Regions from separate parts of the Homo sapiens genome. Here region 1 is linked to region 2. The links come from fine-mapping of genetic effects on gene expression. Tissue or cell type: whole blood. Region 2 holds a variant in brackets; the other region holds the start of a gene. All regions are shown on one strand. Distances are from middle to middle.

Region 1 (8,214 bases), 140 kb before region 2:
AGCATCAGTTGCTAGGGGCATTAAAAGGTGCACATAAACTAAGCTTTCACTATAAAGAAAAATTCCTAAAAGACAAAAAATTACTTGAAATGACAGGTTTCTGTATTAAAGCCTAAAGTTCATGATGTCAACACCATGAACTGTCCGTAGAAGACTTTTTAATTTTCTCAAAGCATGTTAGTGTGTGCAAGGAAGGTATTTGTTTAGTAAACCACTCACTGGTCAGACTTTACCTAAGATAAAGGTATTTTATTAGTGAGAACTGATTACAGGACATTTTAATCAACAATGTAGGGAAAATAGTATCCCTGTATTTTAAAACCTCATTGAAAAGAAACAGAAGCACATTAACGACACATATATTTTTAAATCAAATACTACCAGGTATATTCAAGTTCCAAAAACGTGGGAGCTTGTAAACACAGAAGTGGTAGAGAAAAAGAACGACAAATGCAAGATTATCCTCCAAACCTAATCCCAGTTACCATCTATCTGCAGTAGTGGCTATAACAAGAGAAATAGCTAATAACATTTATGAAACAACATGCAAATAGCACTCTTCTAACCCTACCTATTTTCTCCTCTTTTTGACAATGCTTTAAAAGAACCACTGCTACATTTGAAATAAGACACAAACCTTTACAAAAAAAACTTTTAAAAGCCTTATCGATTCTTATTTTGAATGAGGAAAGAGGAAAATAGTTCACACAGTCACAACTAGTTTCTTCATACTCCCATACAAAAAAAAAAAACAAAAAAAAACCAAAAGCAACTAACAAAAGAATTAACACAGTGTCAGGACAAACTGTAAGATTTGGTAGGGCAAACCAAGTAGTATTTGAAGAGCCGTAAATAGCAGAAACGTCTACTACACGTATCAGATAATCAAAAAATCACATATGGCTTTACGATGCATTTTAAAAAGTTTTCTGTTCATAAGAGTGTCACCATTTAAACATATTCTCCATTCTCTAAGACAAGCAAGGACTGAGAGTTTAAAAGCAGCCTGCATGCATATCTGAAAGAATCAAGCACTAATGCTTTTTTATTTAAAACTTTTTTCCACAGTGGAGGAACAATCACAAAGAATAATAGGCTTCTGTGTAGCAAAAACTTGTTCTAACAGCATTCATGAGCACAGTAACTTGGAAGAATCTACATTTCGTACATTTTTTTTAAAGTGCAAACTTTACGGCCAAAGTCCAAATGAGAAATCAAAACAGGCTTCCAGACAGTGAATTATCTTTCAGGGCATGCTCACTCTTGCTTCAAACAGTAAAACAAAGTAACTTTCATGTATGATGAAAGTCAGTCAGACTAATGTGTCCAGTCATTTAAAAAGGGAACTTACTTATCGTGACTATTGCCCTATTTTTCCCTGAAAAGTTTCAGGTCTAAGCTCCATTGGCTTGAGTGATCCAATGAGCTTTGTACCCTGGGGTAAAAGAGCGCAAAGAAAAAGGAGGGTATTACAGGTGACTTCCAGGTTAGAAAAAAGTTACGAGGAGTTAGCTCTACTAATTGTATCTACGTTAGCGAATGGACGAATACTATGTCGTGTAAGAGAAGCTAAAGCTAGTTCCTCAAAAGGTAACTGGCATAATTAAAACATCCAAACTCAAGCATCATCAAACATCATTTTGCCAATTTTTTTAAGGGATGTATGTTATTTGTAAGTAAATTTATTAATCCATTTGGAATTCCAACAGTCTACGCTTAACACTCAAGCTTCTGAATTCAAGCCGCCAGAATTAACAGTTCCAGGAACTGATAAGAGTATCAGCAAAATGCCTTTTTCCATATCCCCATGTGAAAAGCTGGGGGGCAGAGCTGACAGTCACAAACTCACCCCAGTCAAAAGTATGGACAACACAACGATTAAATTCCACCAGAGGCAAATAAAAATCCCAACTTTCCAGAAAGCTTTCCCTACACCAAATTGAATCCTTTTACTTTCACTCCCACAAAGAAGGTAATCTGAAATAAAAGTCGGGTAACTGGGTATGGTATTTAAAATGAGTCGAAGAAACTACACTGAAGCTACTATAGAGGCGATGAAAAGGTAACCCAAAAGCAGGAGGGAAGGTGGAACAGAAAGCCAGGAAGGGATGGGCGAAGCAGCTAGTGGAGCAAAGGAAGTGGGGGATCCCTTCCAGGGAGGCAGCCCGGAGGGATAACAAGGATCTGGATGCAAGGAACCAGGCGTTTACTGAAACCCGAAGGAGGCTGATGAAGAAACAATGGGGCTTGGAGACGCTCAGACGAGGGCGACGAGGCGGCACCGGACGGGTGGGAAGGAAGAGCAGAAGGCTGCAGTGGAGACGGGTAGGGGGTGAGAAGCCAGGTGGGGAAGCAAGTTGGTTGGGTATGATGGGGTGTGGTAGCGCACCGGGCAGGGAGACGAGGGTCCCCTAGGAATAGGGAGGGGAGTGGCTTGTCAGATTTTGAGACGGGGAGCGGAGGCCGTGAAGGCAGGTGTGATGGAAGCAAAAGAACACAGCTCAACGGGCACAGGACCGGCCGTGCCAGAGAAGACGCAGGGAGGGAAGAGGCAGTAGAAGGGTGAAAGACAAGAGAGAGAGAGAAGGACGCGCGCGGGTCGCGCGGGCGCCGGGGAGCGGGGGCCGCGGTCGGCTTCACTCACAGTCCAGGTGCTTTTTCTTGGGCCCCATGATCTCGTGGGTCGTGGCCTTGCATACTGTCTTGGATACGGCAGAGCCGGTGACACTGTGCTGGGCGGCAGTGATTCGGTCCGTCAGGCTCTGGCCGGACATCTCTGCAGCTCCTCCACCACCCCACCCGCTCAGCAGCCGGCGGGGACTGGGACCCCCAAGAGCCGGAGGGTCCCCACCCCCCACCGCACCCCCTACCCCCACCGGCTCCTTCCCCGCCTGCCGGCCTGGGGCGCGGTTCGGGGCCGCGCGCTGCCACCAGTCCAGAGAGAACCGGCTCGTGTCACCCGCGGAGTCGGACAAGATGTCGGGCACTCCCTTGCCCCCGCCTCAGTTCAGCCCACCCCTTCCCGGGTCAGCTGGAGCCGGGCAGGGTAAGAGGAACAGGCAGCTGCAGGAAAATGGCGGCGCCAGGCTCCTCCTCGGAGCTTTCCGGGCTGCCCCGGGTCACGTGACTCGGACACCGCCCCTCCTCCCTTCTCCCGCCCCTTTCCCCTTCCCTTTCCTCTTCGACGCCCGCCCTCCCTCGCTCAGCGAGGGAAGAGCTGGGCGGCGCCCGCGCGTTACGTGATGGAACTCGCCAGGCGGGCGCAACAGGAGGCCCGCCCGAGGGGAGTGCACAGCCGGCGCATCACGTGACTCTCCCTGCCAACAGGTCGCCTGAGGCTCGGCCCGCGGGGTCACAGACGCCGGGCGGGGCGGGGCGGGAGAGGAATGGCGAGGGCGGTGTGCTGGCGGGGGTGGGGCGGGGCGGCAGGCTTCTCCCCTTATCCCCCCACCTCAAGTGTGTCCTCGTGTCTGTGGTTGAAACCAACAGCTTGACAAAGGAGGTGCAGCTGCCTTCACAGCTTCCCCTGAAGTGGGGGGTATTAGGCCTCTGGCTCCCCGAGCTTTCCCAGCAGAGTCAAGAATGTATTTCAAGACGCCTCCCAAAGCCGCCCTCCTGGCTTAAAGGAGAAGGTTCCAAACGGCCTATTTTCTGAACCTTCCAGCAGGCCTCTCTCTACCATGGAACTATTGAAGCTCTCCTTATTTACTTACCCCAGAAAGGTTTTTTCCCCCCTTTCCTTGAGAGGCTTGGAAATGTCACCTGGTTTTGTTTATCTCTACTCCGAAAACCCGACACGTTGCTGCCATTCTAAATTTAGATACTAGCTGGCCGGTATTCATTCTCTAGGGTGTGGAATAGGACAGGAAACACATAGCTTCACTGGAATTTGAAAAGGGAAGTAGTAGGATGATGTCAACAGCGATTAGCTTGACCCTACATGGCTGACTGCTGTGGTGATTAAAGGTCCAGACCATAGAAGGAAGTGAGAGGGGCGGTAAATGGAGAAGTCCCATTCAAACAGTCCAGACATCACTGCCTGCCATCTCCCCTGGTTTAGTCTTTCTTACCTTTGGCCTCTTTTCTCTTATTGGGTGAGCCAGATTTCCATGGAAAGACGTTGACACTGCCCTGTGGACATTTTAAAAGAAGTATTACATCCTGAAATACTATTCAATGAGACCCAGACCATACATTAACAAAGCCTTTTATATGTTATTAGAGCCTCTACATTCAACCCAGGGTTAGGGATAAGTTGAAAAATATGTGAGTGCTAAGTTACCATGATAGTCACATGTAATCTTGCTAGTTTCAAATGAAATGCTAACATTCTCAGAAAGTCTGTGTACACCATCTGCCAGCCAAATCCAAAATACTGTGCTTCAATCTGGTGACTCTCAAAGGATGCAAAGCTGATAGATATTTAACATTTTATGTATCATATCAGGAATTTTGTGGTCTCCCATTTTCCCCACGCCCCCTCACCCCTCTTTTTTCCCCACTATGGCTGGTGAAATTCTGCAGCAACATGCTCTTGCCAAGAACACACAAGTTTTTAATCCCAGCAGGCTTCATCTTTGTCAAGCCAGCCTCCAATTTCACAAAACTATAATGAATTCCTTCAGTGTACTGCAATCCATCTGTGGTTTGGTGCCCAGTTTGCTGCCCCACGTCCACTGGGCAGTGGAATTACCAAATTCTCAAGACATGTTATCAGCCATCATTGCTACTGGTCTATGGGTTCCACTGTATAAGTTACTGATTGGCCTGAGCCTCTGCATTGGTAAACCCCAATCTGAGGTCAACACTAACATGGTCTAGCTATCAACAGCTGAATATTTTATCCTTAGGGAAAATGCCAGTCATTCCTAAGTACATAACAGGAAAGTATTACACTATTACTTTTACCAAAGAGGTTCTTTCAGACCACTTTTGTGACAATAATTGTTGACATGTTTACCCTATTAACAAACAAGCTGCTGTTAGAAATATTTTATTTTTTTCCAAGTATACATAGTAGAATTTCTAACTATGTAAATAATCAGTAATCATTGAAGAGGTTTATGTGTGGTTGTGAACTGAAATATATGGAGAAATTTAAAAGAAGATGGGGAATTGTTCTAAGGGTAGACATTACTGACCTATGTTGTCTTATATGCTTAAGTTTTCTGTGTCAGTTTCCTTGGTCTATTCAGGAAATATCTCTACCTGAAGTTCCACAGATGCCAACTCACCATGGCCAATACTGAACTTCTCTTGCCCTTGCCCAGCATCCTACATCTTTAATCCATACTGTTCCCTATATCCGTTAATGGCCTCACCACATGTCCAGAAGCTCCGCTCAGAAAGCTGTGATTCTGAGTTCTCCTTCTGTCTTATTTCCCTCATCAAGCCTAATCTACTTTTATCTCTCAAACACATCCCATCTCTAACCCCACTTCTGTTGCCTTAGTTCCAGCCTTTATGATCTCTGTTATACTAGACTGTTTTAGTAACTTCTTAGCTGATTCTCTGTCTTTTATACCCTGACTCTCCAATTCAGATCCTTCTGAAACCAAAATGTGATTGTCTTTTCTTTGCATTAAAATCTTCCAGTAACTCCCCCATCGCTACCCTAAAGGATGAAATTAAGAACTCTCAACCTGGCATACATGGTTCTTCATGATCTGGCCTCATTTTAGAAGTTTCTAAGTATGTAAATAATCAGTGACCATTGTAGAGGTTTATGTGTAATTGTGAAATGAAATACATGGACCAATTTAGAAGAAGATGGGGAATTAGAACTAAGAATAGGCATTACTGACCTACTTTATCTTATATACTTAAGTTTTCTCTGTGTCAGTTTCTTCAGTCTATTTAAGAAATATCTTACCTGAAGTTCCACATGTGCCAACTCACATGGCCACCTAAACCTGTTGAGCCTTGTCTCTTCCCATTCCTCTAAATTCCCCTACCTACCTACTACTTGTTGAGCCTCATCTCTTCTGATTCCTTTAAATGCACTCCAGACAGTATCACACTACTTGACATACTTGGATGTCATGCTGTTTCACATACCAATAAGCAGTTACTGATTTCCTTTTGTTACTCATATATCCTTCTGTTCTCTAATTATTATTGTGATTGACTAATTGCACTAACATGGGGGTGCAGAGATACATCCATGCTAGTATTATGGTTGATGCAAGGTAGATACACAGTAGATGGTGATTGAACGAATGAATGAGAACGCTTTGAAATCACGCATTCGGACACACCATCACTCCAAACCTCTCATTTGATAAAATCTGCCCACTTTTTCACACATTTAGCATGTCTACTGGGCATGGAGGCATAAGCCTATAGTCATAGCTACTTGGGAGGCTGAAGCAGGAGGATCCCTTGAGCCCAGGAGTTTAAGCCTGCAGTGAATTATGATCCTACCACCGCATTCCAGCCTGGATGACAGAGCAAGACACTGTTTCTAAAAATAAATAAAGCATGTCCATCCCATAATTATCTGGTTGGAGCATCATCCTTATTCAGTACCTTGTTAATTAATTTACTCTTTCAAAAAATATGTGTTGAACTGTGTGTCAGGCATAAAGGTTCTAAGTGCCAAACACTATTTACAGTGAACCCATCAGTCCTTTGGGAACTAGTTAGTTCTCAACTTGAAGGCCTCTTTGCTTTGATTGTAAAGGAGCAGACCAAAAACAGAAGGAAAAAACTTGAATAACACATTTCCTAGGTATTTCCTAGGCTCTTCCAACTAAAAGGTATGTTGTAGAGAGGCAGGGAGTGTTCGGAGAAGGAGCAGGTTTTTTTTATTGCCTCCTATGTGCTAAAAACACTACATTTTAAAAATGTAATGCTCATAACAATAATTTCAAAAAGTATCATGTCCAAGTATCGTGCCCATCCAATACAAGAAAACAGACAAGTCTTGGAAATTTTTTTTTTTTTTTTTTTGAGGCAGTCTTGCTCTCTTGCCCAGGCTAAAGTGCAGTGGCATGATCTCGGCTCACTGCAAGCTCCACCTCCTGGGTTCACGCCATTCTCCTGCCTCAGCCTCCTGAGTAGCTGGGACTACAGGCGCCTGCCACCACGCCTGGCTAATTTTTTGTACTTTTAGTAGAGACGGGGTTTCACTGTGTTAGCCAGGATGGTCTCGATCTCCTGTCCTTGTGATGCGCCCACCTCAGCCTCCCAAAGTGCTGGGATTACAGGCGTGAGCCATCGTGCCCGGCCAAGTCTTAGAAATTGAGTAACTTTCCAAAATCCCACAGATACTAAGTGGCAGAAGCAAGATTTAAAAAATAATTATCCTTCCAATACTCTGCCCAGACCCTTTAGCCAGTACTTGAAGCAACTGCCAATATAGACTAAATTTATTCAACAGATAGTTCTTGCCTTCCTGCCATGTGCCAGGCTTTTCTAGACGCTATGATAAAATAATGTGCAAGACAAACAGGGCCTCTGTTCTTAGAGATCTTAGTGTCTAAGTCTTAACAAAGGAGAAAATAGGTAAAAGTATGCTGCACCTGAGGAACCTTAAGTCATCGTCAATGACTTAAGAAAGTGGCAGAGAAAAGGAATATGGAAGAGAGAATTGACCAGAATTTTTACTTTTATTATAACACTTTGTTATCTAAATTATAATCTTTTGATATTAAGCTAACTAAACTGATATGAACACATGGCAAACCCTTCCCCCCTCACCTTTCTGTGTTTACACTTCCTGATGCTGCCAAATCAGTTAGAGATCATAACTTCACATAACCTTAAAAAGGTAAGGACTTTTCTTCATAGCTAAGTTCCCTTGCTAGAACCTCTAAACAAATAAAGTCATGTGCCGCGTGACATTTCAGTCAACAACACACCACAGATACAGTGGTGGTCCTATAAATTATAATACCATATTTTTACTGTATCTGTTCTATGTTTAGATATATGTTTAGCTACACAAATACCATTTTGTTACAGTTGCTTATAGTATTCAGTACAGTAATGTGTGGCACAGGTTTGTAGGTTAGGAGTAACAGGCTATAATATATAATCCTGGTGTGTAGTGGGCTATACCATCTAGGCTTGTGTAAGTGCACTCTGTGATATTCTGAAACCGACAAAATTGCCTAATGACACGTTTCTCAGCACTTACCCCATTGATATGTGATGTATGACTGTATTCCACTTCCAACTGCAGGAAACTTATTCAGGCTCCCAGAATACATA
Region 2 (8,214 bases):
AAGGAGGAAGTGATCTAAGTTAACTAGCAAAGCTTGAGGGGAGATTTTGTTAACAGGAAGGGGAAAGGAATTTTTTTGGGGGAGGTTTGGTCTTCTAGGGAGTTTCATTGTTTCATTCTTAGACATGAACATGTGTGAACAGTTGTACTGGGAGTCTTTTAAAATATGTACATTTTTGTAGGCAGTTAGAAATGTGAATATTATTGTCAAAACAGATAGATGAGTTTCTAAGTGTTCACACTGAGGCAGTAGTTGAAACTGTAAAAGCAGATGCTGTGTATGAAGAAGAATATTACAAAGAGAAAGACATACAATAATTAGAAGAAAGAAATTATTACACATTTTATAATGCTTAACTATTTAGCTTTACATTTTATTTCTAACTTAAATCCAACTCTTATAGTACTCCTTTGACCTGTCCTACAAATTTATCTCTCTCAATCTTTTTTTTTGCATAAATATTAGCAATCTTTTCCTTTTCTTTGTGGGTAACTGTATTAGTAAAGACAGGTTAGCTTATACTAACACTCCAAATCTCAGTGGCTGCAAGGTATTTCTCATACACTCTACATATCTGTCACTTCCCCTCACATTTTATTGGCCAATGCAAGCCACACAGCCATATAAATCCTCAAAGGAGGTGGCAGTTTGATCCCCCAGTGTACATTAATGGGAAGAGTGGGACTATTTGTGAAAAGTTCTAATGATAACCATAGTAACACACTTTTTTCCTTAGACCGTTATCTACAACCATGCCTCCTCCACCTTTTTATTTGTACCGTCACTAAAACGTTTTCAGTATGAACGTTTTATAAGCAGCAGTATGGTGGCATAATTCTGTGGCATAATTCCAAGTTGTTTCTGCTTCTTTGCTCTTTTCTCCTTATTTTGATGCTGTCTTCCTTTGGTTCCATGACAGGCTCTCTTCTTTTCTTCCTTTCCCTATTCTTAGAACTGAAGAGACTCAAGGAAATGCTACAACGGAATCAAAACAATTTTATTTTATTTTTTGAGACGGAGTCTCCCTCTGTCGCCCAGGCTGGAGTGCAGTGGCGCGATCTCCGCTCACCGCAAGCTCCGCCTCCCGGGTTCACACCATTCTCCTGCCTCAGCCTCCGCAGGCGCCCGCCACCACGCCCTGCTAATTTTTTGTATTTTTTTTAGTAGAGACGGGGTTTCACCGTGTTAGCCAGGATGGTCTCCATCTCCTGACCTCGTGATCCGCCCGCCTTGGCCGGCCTTCCAAAGTGCTGGGATTACAGGCGTGAGCCACTGCGCCCGGCCTCAAAGCAATTTTTACCCCATCTCTCCTCCCTGTGGTTGGTTCCACTTCTCTTCCTTCTTTAGCAAGAGTCATTTCTTCCCCTTTGAGTCCTGCTGCACTTCCTTCTTTTTCTCACTTCCATGTCACTCAGAGGTTAAGGCAGTTGTAGAGCAAAACAACCAGCTGACAAGCAATAGATGTTATGCAATTCACCATTTATTCTGTGCAACATTAATTAGCTGGTTGTCCTGATTTTCACAGCCTGTGCCCACCCCATACATTGTTGACTTCATTACTTCTAATAAGAATTAATCTTTTTTTCCATTTGAATCCCACAGAATGTGGTTTGAGTCTCTAATCTGATTATTACAGTCTGCCCTTCCTCAGGGTTATTTTTGTATATGCTCCCTCACTAAATCACAACATCCTTATAAACAGTGATGTGCACATAATAGATACTCAATAATTGTTAACTCACTGATGAGTCCTAAATTTGACTAACTTGCCATTGGTTTTGGTAACATTTGGGTAAATCTTGATTCAGCAATTGGCACTCAGACTTTTGCTCATATCTAGAAAAAAAGGAACATATATAAATAGAAAAAAATATTATCTGTTGAAGACCTTTCTATTTTTCACCCTCCATATTAAGATTGTAGTACTATTGTTTGTTTACAATTCATACCACACCTGCTTTCTAAGAGGCTTTAAGTAGACGTATTAGGCAATATATTCACTTATTCATTAATTCATTCATTCACTGATTTACTCAATAGTCACTTAATGAGTCCCTATCATAGGCTAGGGATAGGATAGAAAGTCTAATAAAAGGTTGGGCATGGTGGCTCATGCCTGCAGTACCAGCACTTTGGGAGGCTAAGGCTGGCAGATGGCCTGAGTTCAGGAATGCTAGACCAGACTGGGCAACATGGCGAAACCCTGTCTCTACTGAAAATACAAAGTGTGGTGGCACCCACCTTTAATCCCAGCTACTTGGGAGGCTGAGGCATAAGAATCACTTGAACCCGGGAGGCAGAGATTGCAGTGAGCCAAGCTGGCACCACTGCACTCCAGCCTGGGTGACAGAGTGACACTCTGTTTAAAAAAAAAAAAAAAGTCGAATAAAATGTGGTAACCTCTTTCAAAATCTGGGAGCAGGGGGGAGACACATAAGTAAAGCAATTGCTACTGTGCCATAAACACTGTAGCCTAAAGGAGAAGCATCTAAGTGAGATTGGAACTTCTTGGGAGATGCGACCCCTGAAACTAGCTTTGAGGTTAAGAGGAGGAGATAGCTGGAGAATTGGGGATGGTGGAGCAAGGGTTTTTATGAGAAGGAAATGTGCCATGTGCAAAAACTGAGATGGGAAATAAAATTACATGCTCCAGAAACTGCTCAAGAAATTCAATAGGACAGATCCATAACATCCTAGTTGAGGAATGGCAGGAGACAAGCTAGTGAAATGAACATGTGTCAGATCTAAAAGCATCTTGTGTCTTAAAGTAAGGAATAGTAACATCAAAGCTATGGAACACATCGAAACTCCTCTGCCAGGCAAGTGGGGTCTCAGATGCCATTCTGGGATTATACTTACAGAAGCTGGGTGTGGTTATGGGTAGGGTAAGACACTCCCCATAATATGCATGGAATAGAACTGAGAGGATCTGAAAGTGAGGGCCCAGGGGACAAAGCTAGGATTAATTCAAAGCTGACAGGAAACCAGAAATAATTAATATGAAACATGACCAGAAAGTACTAAGACATAGCAAAGAGGAAAAAATGCAGGGTCAGAGGCACAGCTTAGCATCTTTTTGTTGTTGCTGTTGTTCAGACAGAGTGTTCAGTCTGCTGCCCAGGCTGAAGTGCAGTGGCGCAATTTCAGCTCACTGCAACCTTCACCTCTTGGGTTCAAGAAATTCTCATGCCTCAGCCTCCCGAGTAGCTGGGACTACAGGTGTGCACCACCACACCCAGCTAATTTTTTGTATTTTTAGTAGAGATGAGGTTTCACCATGTTGGCCAGGCTGGTCTCAAACTCTTAGCCCCAGGTGATCTACCTTCTTCAGCATCCCAAAGTGCTGGGATTACAGGCATGAACCACCACACCCAGCCACAGCTCAGTATTTTAAAGCCACCTTTTCCCTTTTTGAGCTCCTTGAGCCAGTGTCTGGATGGTAAAGGAATATTTTGAACTGATTTGGACCTAAGGCTATCCAAGTATTTTAAGCAGAAGAGTGATAGGGCCTGTTGTTGCTCTTTTAACTCTAGACACACAGCATCTTGCTATGTCCTGTGAGCTCTACCCCATATGTGTCTGGCCCAGAGAAAGTCCTCAATAAATATTTAGTGAATGGCATGGACTTGCTACTAATTGTTAAGCACAGGAATGTTTTGTTTAGTCTATATTAGGTGAGTATAATGCTACAAGAAAACTGATTTCATAGAAACCTACAAGAATTTACTCTTCTCTTTTATTTATTGTAATAAATGTCCACTAAAATTATGTTATTTACCAGCCATCCAAATGTAAAATTAATCTTTTTTTTTAACAGTATCTCAGACATACACATTTAAAGCATACACATTAAGGAATAAGACAATAGAAAAGACACCCAAAGAAGTAGAACCAACTAAAATATAAAAACAAAATAACAAACAGTTTACCAATAAAGTGGTATACGTTTGCGTAACATCAATACAGAAACAGTAGCTAAGATGATTGCAAAAATGGAGTTAAGCAATACAAAGCTGCTTACAAGACTTGTACGTGTAAATTCTTGATCGTAATTGAACTAATGGTGGTGAAAATAAAGTTAAAATTTCCTGCAGATGTCAGGCGTGGTGGCTCACACCTGTAATCCCAGCGCTTTGGGAGCCTGAAGCAGGAGGATCGTTTGATCCCAGGAATTCTAGGCCGCAGTGAGCTATGATTGCGCCACTGCATTCCAGCCTGGGTGACAGAGAGAGAGAGAGACAGTGTCTCTAAATAATAAATACATACATAAAATATTAAAAAGAAATAAAAGAGATTTCCCATGGGAAACTTCATCATTTGCCTGCCATTCTAAAGTTGGAGTGGGGGGCAGAATAGGTAAGCTTTGGGTCCAGTTTATCATGAGAGAATGCATTAAGCAAACAACAGTTGAACAGAGTGTGGCCAGCTGGTACAATATGTCACAATGGTGCCATCATGAGACAAGGCCACGTAAT[A/T]TAAAAAGCGAGGAAGGAAATACAAACTCCAAGTAAAGACCAAATTGCTAAGGGCTGCAGGGCCTCCCAGACTACTCTTCATTCACAGCATAGGCTTCAAATGTGCCTTGTGAATGTGCATATGTAACATCTGAATGGATGTGCATTCTAAGTTAAAGTCAACACACATTTAAATCTGTACAGTTTTAGTTATTGATATGAACTTTCAGCCTCAGATTTTAGAATGATTTCTTCATGCTTAACAACATCACCAGATAACAAGAAGCAGCAAGCAAAAATGGCCTTTATGGTATTATAAAAAGTAAATATCTTTGTCTTATCTTTGTCCCAGATTCCTGGCACACAGCTCCCGAAACATTTTGGAATCCTGGGAATGATAAGGGTAAGACTATATTTTGCATGCTAATTAGATGTCTGGTGGCTGACGGCCCCTAGCAAGCTTCAGCATAGGGGCTGGAAGCCAAAAAGGCCAAGTCTTGATTAGAAACTTGGAACTTTCATCCCCATTCTGCTGGGGAGGGGAGAGGGGGTAGAGATTGAGTTCAATCACCAATGGTCAATGATTTAATGAATCATGTCTACTTAATGAAACTTGCATAAAAACCCATAAGCTGGCCGGGCGCGGTGGCTCACGCCTGTAATCCCAGCACTTTGGGAGGCCGAGGTGGGCGGATCACGAGGTCAGGAGATCGAAACCATCCTGGCTAACACGGTGAAACCCCGTCTCTACTAAAAATACAAAAAATTAGCCGGGCGTGGTGGCAGGCGCCTGTAGTCCCAGCTACTCAGAAGGCTGAGCCAGGAGGATGGCGTGAACCCGGGAGGCGGAGCTTGCAGTGAGCCGAGATTGCGCCACTGCACTCCAACCTGGGCGACAGAGCGACACTCTTTCTCAAAAAAAAAAAAAAAAAAAAAAAACCCATAAGCAATGGAGTTCAGAGAGCTTCCCAGTTGGTTAACACATCCGCATTCTGGGAGGGTAGCACACCCCAGCTCCATGGTACAGAAGCTGTTATGCTTGGGACTTTCCTGGGCCTCGTCCCTATACCACTCATTGGCTCTTCATTTGTATCCTTTAAAATACAAATATAAGTAAAGTGCCTTCCTGAGTTCTGTTGGCCAGTCTAGGAAATCATTGAAACTTAGGAGGGGGTTATGGGGATATTTGATTTATGGCTGGTCATATAGAAGTACAGGTGATCTAAAATAGCATGGTACTGGCATTAAAAACAGACATATAGACCAATAGAACAGAATGGAGAGTCCAGAAATAATTCCACACATTTATGGTCAATTGATCTTTAACAAAGGTGCCAGGAGCACACAATGAGAGAAGGGCAGACTATTCAATAAATGGTATTGGGACAATTGGATATCCACATGCAAAAGAATAAAACTGGACCCTTGTCTCACACCATATGCAAAAAAAAAAATCAACTCAAAATGGATTCAAGACTTAAACATAAGACCTGAAACTGTAGAACTACTAGAAGAAAACATAGGAAAAAAGCTTCTTGACGTTGTCCTCAACAATAACTTTTTTTGGTTATGACCCTAAAAGCACAGGCAGCAAAAACAAAAATAGACAAACGAGAGTGCATCAAACTAAAAAGCTTCCTATAGAAAAAGAAACAATCTATGGAATACAAGCTATGTGCAGGAGAAAAAAGACAAGAAACAACCTATAGAATGAAAGAAAGTATTTGCAAGCCATATATCTGATAAGAGGTTAGTATTCAAACTATGCAGGGAATTCAAACAACTCAATAACAAGAAAACACATAACCAGATTTAAAAATGGGCAAAGGGTCGGGTGCAGTGGTTCACGTCTGTAATCCCAGCACTTTAGGAGGCCGAGGTGGGCAAATCACCTGAGATTGGGAGTTCAAGACCACCCTGACCAACATGGAGAAACCCTGTCTCTACTAAAAATACAAAATTAGCTGGGTGTGGTGGTGCACGCCTGTAATCCCAGCTACTCAGGAAGCTGAGGCAGGAGAATCTCTTGAACCCGGGAAGCAGAGGTTGCGGTGAGCTGAGATTGTGCCATTGTACTCAGCCTGGGCAACAAGAGTGAAACTCCGTCTCAAAAAAAAAAAAAAAAAAAAAAAGAGAAAAGAAAGGCAAAAGACCTGAATAGACATTTCTCAAAAGAAGACGTATGAATGGCCAACAGGTATATGAAAAAATGGTCAACATCACTAATTATCAGGAAAATGTAAGTTAAATTAAAACCACAATGAGATATCACCTCACACATGTTCGAATAGCTATCAAAAAGACAAATGATAATACATGTTGGTGAGGATGTGGACAAAGGGGAACCCTTGTACAATGTGGGTCAGAATGTAAATTGGTACAGCCACTATGGAAAATCACGTAGAGGTTCCTCAGAAATTAATAATAGGACTACCTTATGACCCAGCAATCCCACTTCTGGATATATATCCAAAAGAAAGGAAATCAATATATTGAAGAGATATCTGCATCCCCACAATCATTGCAGCATTATTCACAACAGCCAAGACAGAAAATCAATCTAAGTGTCCATCAATGGATGAATGGATAAAGAAAATGTTTTACACACACACACACAATGTAATATTGTTCAGCCTTTCAAAATAAGGAAGTTCTGTCATTTATGACAATCTGGGTAAACCTAAAGGATATTATGCTAAGTGAGATAAGCCAGGCACTGAAAGACTACAGATACTACAGATCTCACTTATATGTGGAACTCATAGAAGCAGAGAGTAAAATGGTGGTTAACAGGGCCTGGGGGTAAGGAGAAAGGAATGGGGAGATACTGTCAAAGGGTAGAGGGTTTCTAACTGTTAGGATGAATAAATTCTGGAGATCTATTGTACAGCATAGTGATGATAGTTAAGAATACTGTATTGTATTCTGGAAAATTGCTAAGACAATAGATTTTAAATGTTCTCACTACAAAAAAGTTGTATGTGCAGTGATGGATATGTTAATTACTTTGATTTAATTATTTCACCACATATACATATATCAAAACCTCACATTGTACACTGTAAATATATATCATTTTTATTTGCCAACTATAGCTTAATAAAGCTAGGGGAGGGTGGAGAAGTACAGGTGATCTGATATTGCACGTAGCATCTGAAATGAGGGCAGCCTGTGGCTCTGAGCCCTTAAACCTGAAGAGTCAGAGGCCAACTCTGAGTAGTTAGTGCTAATTGAATTGGATTGTTGGACACCCAGTCAATTTCCAGAGACATGGAGAATTGGTTGGTGTGAGAAAACAACCCAAAAAGTTGGTGTCAGAAGTGCTGTAAGTAAAAACAGCTTACTTCTGGTAAAATGTACCCTACTAATTTTACTATTCTATTTATCTGGTAAAAAAAAATTAGTAGAATCTCATAGGTTCTGTGGGGTGTGTGTGTGTGTGTGTGTGTGTGTGTGTGTTCATGAGAAGTTTGGTTTGGTAGGTGCAGAAGTTTGGCTTTAGTGGATGTAGAAGTAAGTCTAGGGTTTTTTCCCTGAAATATTCCAGGTCTAGGTTTAGTCCTTGCTTTGTTCTTTCTCCTCGATATTCCATATTCCTTACTTCCTTCAAGTAAACTTCAAGTAAACTCACTGTTTTTGGAAACCAACATTGACCTCATTCAACTCAGTTACCTCTACTTGGTTCAGTCAAATACTCCAGTGTTTAACACATTCTGTAAGGCAGTGGAGAGCTGTGGAAAGGTTTTAAACCTTGAGAACA

Evidence for each region. PIP is the estimated chance that this variant, and not a neighbour inherited with it, causes the effect.
Region 1: it holds the start of PICALM, and the variant in region 2 is fine-mapped to the expression of PICALM in whole blood (TOPMed, PIP 0.98).

Annotation. Positions count from the first base shown.
Region 1 is chr11:86,066,007-86,074,220 of GRCh38, forward strand. PICALM (phosphatidylinositol binding clathrin assembly protein) reads right to left here and starts at 3,078. Exons shown (of 20, transcript NM_007166.4): 1 at 2,645-3,078. The coding sequence starts at 2,774. It overlaps LOC124902731 (a long non-coding RNA gene), which reads left to right and starts at 3,918. Exons shown (of 2, transcript XR_007062823.1): 1 at 3,918-5,691; 2 at 6,312-6,495. RefSeq lists enhancers at 1,724-2,426, 2,427-3,128, 2,868-4,067 and silencers at 2,693-2,742, 2,813-2,862, 3,003-3,172, 3,323-3,592.
Region 2 is chr11:86,201,622-86,209,835 of GRCh38, forward strand. No RefSeq gene overlaps it. Among named protein-coding and RNA genes, the nearest start is that of LINC02695, 12 kb to the left of the region's middle. RefSeq lists enhancers at 589-1,089, 1,090-1,590. The variant A/T (reference allele first, on the strand shown) is at 4,476.